Linked DNA regions of Homo sapiens. The protein of the gene in region 1 interacts with the protein of each later gene in a biochemical or structural test. Each region holds a gene or a part of one and is shown on either strand. Other genes may lie near its edges.

Evidence for each region. Proteins that work in one complex are often made in the same cells at the same time.
Region 2: the proteins of CNOT4 (region 1) and CNOT2 form a complex in vitro, tested with the Homo sapiens proteins (one study listed by BioGRID).

The regions. Positions count from the first base shown.
Region 1 is NC_000007.14:135,387,744-135,391,911, forward strand, and holds part of CNOT4 (CCR4-NOT transcription complex subunit 4), read right to left. Parts: intron 1,152-4,168; coding exon of another isoform or gene 1,051-1,151; exon of another isoform or gene 1-1,050. UniProt on the Homo sapiens protein: Has E3 ubiquitin ligase activity, promoting ubiquitination and degradation of target proteins. Involved in activation of the JAK/STAT pathway. Catalyzes ubiquitination of methylated RBM15.
Region 2 is NC_000012.12:70,249,600-70,253,432, forward strand, and holds part of CNOT2 (CCR4-NOT transcription complex subunit 2), read left to right. Parts: intron 1-3,833. UniProt on the Homo sapiens protein: Component of the CCR4-NOT complex which is one of the major cellular mRNA deadenylases and is linked to various cellular processes including bulk mRNA degradation, miRNA-mediated repression, translational repression during translational initiation and general transcription regulation.

The DNA of each region.
Region 1 (4,168 bases):
TTCAAGAAATGTGTTTTCAGAAATATCACTTCACATTATGTCCTAATAAAGTACTCCACTATTCTCTTGATTAAAATTATCTGTTACAATTTAGGTGGCCTAATTTTAGAGGACATCCAATCTCTTCTCTTCTGCCTTAGTCTCATTCTGGTCAGGTACTTATAATATTATCTTATTATCACATTTTAATTATTAAACAATGAAATTTCCAAAACAATATCCCACAGAATTACTGTTTGTTCAGTAACAATGTTACACTACTATGGTTGCTTTTCACATACAATGTTTACTCCGTATTCAAGTTTCAGATAAGTCAACTATAAACTGAAGTTCTGTTTTTGAGGCATTTCCTGGTATACTAGGCAGTGCATTAGAAAAGAGATTATATTGCATTTAGGCTACAATAATTATCTTTTAACCATCTATGCATAATTAACAACCATTCAAAAAGAAAGTGCAAAAGTGCAAAAGAGAGAGAACAAAACAGTTTCTACACATGTAATGCATATTATAGGATATAAATCTAGACAACTAAAAACAATCGCCAACAATATCCTTCTGAGCATTAAATGACACCACCAATTTTGTTTTATATGTATTCTTTCTTCTCAAGTATTCAAAGAATGCAATAGACATTATCTTGTTAATTTGCAAATTTTTCAGGAGATTAGGATATTATTTTTTCACAAACCAGAAAACAAGATACTACCATTACCTTTGTATAATTTTTCAATAATAGAGCCAAAATAACAACAATTCTAGCTAATCTCACCTGGGATCTTAGTACTACAAGTTTATTTTTATGAGTTAGAAATAGTATCACTCATGAGAAACAATGCCAAAATTATTACACTAATAAATTATGTTAAAGGCCTAATGAAGAAATACTTCAACAACTATGAGGTAACACGCTAGCTGTAGGCATGAGGAACGTTTATATTGGCTCTTCTGGGTGTATACATTAAAAGCAAAATCATAAAGGAATCATGCAAAAATCCAGTTGCCCATGCAAGCACCCCAGAGTCTAATCCTCTCCTCTCAGTTCTGTTGTCAGGCCACAGTAGTGTGGAGACTTGTAGGCTGCTGTCCTTGTTGTAATGAATGGGAAGAGGTTGACAGTGGCATGGTCGAAACCTTCACCTCTTCTTCCCCTGTGGAAAAGTCAGTCATGGTCTAGTTATGGGTGACTAGATTTGTTAACAGTCCCTTTAAAAATGATTTCAATATTTGGAATACTGATACATATATAAAATACATGCTTAATGTTTGGAATCCAGGTGTGAAACAAGACATGAATTTTAAAATATAAACTTATCAAGTACTTGGAAAGTAGTTATATTCTAAATATATCCTGAGTAATATTGTTTCAGAGATAAGAACAAATACAATAGATTTAGATTATAAACATACTACCAAAAAAAAAAAAAAAAAAAAAGACCAGGAAAGCCATTCTTTTCCAAGCCAATTGGACCCTTATAGATACTCCTAGTAAATGGTAAATATTAATAGTATTTTGTGAAAAAATTAAACCTTGATTTACAGAAGTGAAAACTGATTTTTAAAAGAGAAAAATTACAAATCCATGTTTTGAAAGCATAAATTATGTACTAGAAAAAAATGAAAGCTATAAATATTAACTAGTAAATTAACATACAGCATCTGAAAATTCAAGTTTACCTTTGAAGTAATTGAAAAATAGTAAAATGTTAACAGTACAATGATCCAATTGACTGAAAATGAGATGACTACTTCTAGGTCAGAGAATTATAGATGAATGAGATCGGTTCTCCTGATTATAACTGAAAATTATTTGACTACAAGTGACTTGTTTCACACATGACTCAAAATTCAATCAAGTCACTGTTAAAACAGTTCATATAGAAACAAAGAAAATTTAAAGAAAAATGCCCTCTCAAAAGTAAAGTTTAAATTAACAAAAACATGAAAAAAAAATCCAATCCTAAACAGTTTCAAATATTTTTTGAGGTATATCTTGAAACAACAATGCTTACTGACTTATGTTTTCCAAATAATTTTTAACATCATGGAATAAAAACAACTTGGCAGAATATTTTTTTAAAACAAATCTGCAAAATTACATGTGGAAGGATAACTGACAAAGCAGAAAAAGAGTCTGTCAATCCATATAACAGGTGATTTTGTAGTTTTTCAGTAAATTGGCAAAGATTCTTATAAACCCCAAGAACATAGCAATGAGGCTCTGTAAAGCAAATTTTAGACTAGAGTTCTTAGCAAGAAAATGATATTAATAAGGACTAAGAAACAGACTGATTTCTATCAAGTCGATACACTTTATTCTATTTTGTAACAATAGGCCATATACCCCTGAGCTGGGCCAATTTGTCTCATGAGTTGATACTGTTGATAAAAAGGGACTTCCAAGTGTGTGAGAGCAAAAACAATTGCCACGGGAAGAAAGCCAAGTTAAAGCACATGCCAGTGATCTTCATTTATGAAGGAGGGCATCGTTGTAGTGCAAAAACATTTCCATTGTTGAATTTGAGATCTAAGTTCTTACCCTAATTCCACTACTAATTGAATATGTGACCTTTAACAAATTATTTAAGCTTTCTGGAACACAGCTTTGCTATTCCTAAAATGAAGGAATTGGACAAAACAAAGTCACGTTTTAGGACAAGGTAAATCACTTTGTAGAAAGAAGGCATATGGTTCCAATAATAATAAAAAAAAAGATCTGAATGAATTTACTGTAACTGCCCACGAATCAAAATTTCCCCCAAGAATATTTATGTCAAAAATATTTCTAAACTTAGTAAACCAAATGCTGCTAAAAAGGTTTCACCTAATTAAGGAAATAACTACTAATTTTAAACACAAAAACAGTTTTCAATTAGATCAAAAAAAAAGGAAGCTGCATTTCTGTCAAACCTCTGGCAACTGTTTTTCCCATGATAGGTTTCAGATATATCAATCTTTAATAATTCACTGAACAAACCAAAAATAAAAATTTAAGTACAAATGTATAGTAAGTAGACATTCTATCTGTATGACATGTAGGTGACTGCCATCTCTGATTTGCTCTTACAGGTCAGAGACCATATTTTGCTCTACATATTTAGAGAATAAATATATATGCCTTTCCAGAGTGTAGAATTAGTTTAAAATATTGTCTAAGTATATCTTAAAGTAGCAGGTCCCACTGAAACAGGTATGTACTCTCTCCATTACTGAAGCATTTAGTGACAGCTGCCCTGTGTAAGGTATCATGATAACTGCTAAAAGATACAAAGTTGAATCCTTGCCAATAGTTCAACTCAGGTGCAAGTGAGTTAGAACAGGTGCAAGTGAGTTACAACAGGTGCAAGTGAGTTACCTAGGTATTAAATTGCTTCAAATTAGACATAGTTAAGATGTATATATAGTTTTCCAGATTTTCACTTTCTGTCATTTCTAATAGTTACTGAAAATCCTAAATCTTCTGGCTACAATTACACAGCTATTCTGCTCTGAGGCTTAGCACATTCAGTTTTCTGGGGCATCTACCAAATATTTATAATCCATGAGAGGATTCTGGTGTGTGAGACTCTTGATAAAAATTTTTAAATTTTGGTACATTAAAACTAAAATTTCTCTAGTCATCAGAGCCTTAAAAATAACCTAATAATAAGCTTAACCATAAGTCACCATTTAAATACCAAGCAAGTCTGCATAGCCTGAAATTGAAAATCCAAAATAAACTCTCCCACCCCCTACCAAATAGTACAACGATTCAGAACCTAAAGTTGGTGACTACATTTTTAGCATCTCTGAAAAAAAAAGGTTTTAATGCTCTATGGTTGAGTATATGGTAAAAGTTTTAAAAATTAAAACAAAATCCCCAAAGATAGGACCATAATTTAATGTCACATTTTTTCCATAAAGCATCTACTTTAGACGAAGATTTTAAATGACTAACACAAGGACAACTAAACTCACTAATCAGCGATTTCTCATTACCAGTGCAGCATTCTGAGAATAACTATTGGTTTGAAATATATGGGTTAAAACTACTCTTCAGTGTTAAGGGATAATATGATGACTATGAAATTGGAAGAAAATCAAAGATCGTCATGTAATAAGTCAAATAAAAGCACAAAAAGAAGACAGCTAATAACTAGAATCCCATAAAGGCATCCTACTTCCTATC
Region 2 (3,833 bases), on another chromosome or scaffold:
TGTTTGCATCTGATCATCTTGCAGATCCTGGATATTTAATCAAATTGATGCAGAAGTTTGAAAGACAAGCAGCAGTAGGAAATTTTTGTTTCAAGCTTGACTTTTCTGACAATATCCAACAGCTGCTCATATTTTTAAAAATTAGAAACATTCACTGAGAAACGTTAAAAACTTAAAAGCAAATACTGTGTTATAATGAGAATAGGTAATAACATATCATTGATGCTACACTTTACATATTATTGCACCATTATTCTGAGGTAATCATATGCCGAACAGATTACTGCACAAAGTAATGCTTTAGGGGTGTAGTTTTTATGGGAATGAACATGTCTGGCCTGAAATTAGAAAAAAAATTGGAGCCATAATCTTTCTAATCTATGCTTGCTTATGAGAAATTCTAGGTATATTTATGTCAGGCCAAACTATTTGCTACAGCAAACCGGTTAACCTGACATCTGAGATAGTCTTTAAAGTGTTTAAGTTTGGTATACAATGCACTTGTGTGTGTATATGACTCATCCTAAAATGGATGGATGTGTGTAAAAAAATTGTAATCCAATGCTTAAATGAATTTGTGAAGCACAAATAAGTGAAACACTAAGATGTTTCAGAGCATAGTTTGAAAATCCCTGTGCTCGATCACCAAAGTCACTTCCAACAGTAAAATTCTGTGTATTTTAAAAGTTCTTTTTCTATTCCCTGCACATGCAAAATTCATATAATTTAGCTGCTTTTTAGTAGTATTTGGATAGAAATTGTTTATTAAATTTAAAGTTGAGGCTCTGCTGGTTATATGTTAGCACTCTAGATGTTTTCAAGTAAATCCTTTAGTAATATGAGTGTTTAGTCTCTGCTTGACATTGTTATTGGATATATGACGGTGATCCAGACAAGTCTCCACCTTCATTAATGTAACATTCTGGAGGAGGAGACAGACAGTAAACAAATAAATAAACATAATTTCAGGTAATGGTAACTTAGGAAAAAATAAAGGGGGATAAAGGTACAGCAATTGATTAGAAATGGAAAAAAGATTAAGTAGGGTGATGAGAGAAGACTTCTGTGGAGGTATCAGTTGAGCAGAAAGGAGTAAGCCATGCAGAAATGTGGTTGAATGGTTTTCCAGGCAGAAGTAATAGAAGGCCCTGAGATAGGGTCAAGTTTTGTATGTTTGAAGATAAGAAATTTCATAAACAATTACTTAGTGCTTTCTGCATAAATGGGGGTAAGCTCTAAAGGGGAGAAGAGGTGATTAAAGCATAATGATCTGTGTCTTTCACTTCAGAAAATATTGTGGTGGACCCAGTAATCTGTAATAGGTTTTACAAAGAGCAATAGGAAGGAGGGATTATTTTTTATTAAGGTGCCTTGAAATTGTTTTCTACATCAGATGAATTGCAGGGGTTGAGGGGTGGTCTGTCTGGAGTACTGGAAAATGACATAGGAAAGCAAACTGAAAACTTTCCTTAATTCATGTGTTTATGTAGAATAATAAAACCTATACTTTTCTTAGAAATTAGTAATAAGTTTCATATTTAATTAGATTTTCTTGTACAGTCCAATAAATGTTACTTTGTGCTGTGCACTATTATAGTTGCACTGCGTAATTCCTCAAGTTAAATTTTTGTCATACTGTAGAAACATCCTAGAGTAGAGTAACTTTGTTTCAGGGAGTTAATGAGTTGGCTTCAAGGAGGTGATAAGTGAGCTCTGGGTTCTGAAGGGTGATTTGTAGTTAACTAGGTGGGGGAGGGTAGGGAATCAGCATTGTAAATGCACAAATCCTAGGAAAATGTTCTAGATTTGGAGAATGGTGAGGTAATCCTCCATAGCCCTTGATGGAATTCTGGGACCTCATAGGAGAAGTTAGTTGAAGGAATGAAGTAGCCACAGTATGAGGTCTTATCTTTTATGTGATGAGGGAACCATTAACCATTAGGAGGGGAAAAAAAAGCCAGTGAGATTGATAAGCAGATTCGTGTTTCAGGGGAAAGTTTAGATTCCACAGTCGATTTACAATTAAAATTATAAGCTTAATGGTGTATGTTTATGACATTTTTGAAAGATTATTTTCTCTCCATTAAACAAATTGAGTACTTTGCATTCATATAAGCAGGATTTTTATTTGTTAAGAACTGTATGACTTTGAAACTCTGTAGTCTATCTTTTAGAGAACTTGTTATATATGTAAATGAATGCCAACTGTTCAAGATTTTTCCGTTACTGGGGTGGAATTTTTGTATACGTTTTGGGGCAGGCAAAGTTTGAGTATTATCATCTGATGTAATGTGTTAGGCATGAGATTTAACATTCTTGGATAAATTGAAATAATACCAAGAAAATCTAAATCAGTGATAAAATCCCTACATAGGTGCTGATATTTATGTTATGTTACTAGAAGTGCTTATTTTACAATGCTATGATATGTGTTTGTGTGTTTCTCAAAATATATAACACTTGGATATATTAGGTTGCTAGCATTATCTGTTAATTGACATGCAGAAACAAATCCTAAATTAATGTTTTTAAAGAGAAAGAATTGCTTCTCTGAGAATGTAGTTTCAGCAAGTTATTTTTATTTTTATTTATTTATTTCTTTTTTTGAGACAGGTCTCACTTTGTCACCCAGGCTGGAATGCAGTATCATGATCACGGTGCACTGCAGCCTTGACCTCCTGGGCTTAATCAATCCTCCCACCTAAGCCTCCTGAGTAGCTGGGACTACAGGCGCATGCCACCATGCCCGGCAAATTTTTGTATCTTTTGTAGAGACAGGGTTCCTCCATGTTGCCCAGGGTGGTCTTGAACTCCTGCGCTCAAGCCATCTGCCTGCCTCATCTTCCCAAAGTGCTGGGATTACTGGCCTAAATTATTGCTTTTATTGTATGCATTATATACTATTTTATCATAACAAAAGTTAATGGTTCAACTATGGCATTTAGAGCTGCCCACGTAGCCTGATTGTCTATTTAGTTCACTTTTGACTGAGTAAAATGGAGCTGATCTATCTGCTATTAAAGAGAGTTATATTCTGAAATTTTACATGATGTTCATAATGCCTGGAACTAACCAGCCTGAAATGGAATCACCGTTGTACTGTTTTCAATTGGCTAGGTGACTTATTCTCCCTATACTTCAGTTTTCTCATTTGAAAAATGTAGATAAAAATAAATAAATAAAAACAAAGAAAAATGTAGATAAATAACAATACTTACCCAGTAGAACTGATGTAAGGATTAAAGTTTTTTGTGGGTTTTTTGTTCGTGTTCGTTTTGGAGTGGGACTTGTTAGGTTAAAGAGGAGCTTCTGGGGTATACAAGAATTAGCCACAATTTATTTCATAGAGTGCACTATACTCTTTTTTGTATCAGATTCGTAAATGTAAACAAGAATGCAGTCTTGCTCTTAGAGTCTAAACATGTTTTTCCTACCAGGAATTTTGTTTAGATGACCTTCTGTGAAGTAAGATGTGTAATATTTTGAGTAACATAAATAAATCGTCATATTGCTCTGTCTGTAGTACTTGGCAAAGCACAGGGCACATAATAGGCATTTAATAATTCCTGTGTTAAGTGGGATAAATCTAATGGGTTAGGATTCAGACAGACTGGTGTCTACCTTTTTCAACCTGAATAGTGCAGAGTTAGTTACCTGTAGTAGTTTTTTCTTCTGTGCCTGTTTTCTTCCTTAAAATTAATAAAATATTTTCTTCCCTTAAGTGTATTTAGTAGGTTTAAATATGACCCTGTAAAACTCCTGACAAGTAGGTATTTACTGTTGTTGGTTCCCATGCCATTTCCTTTATTTAGAGCAAAAATTGCAAAAATCCT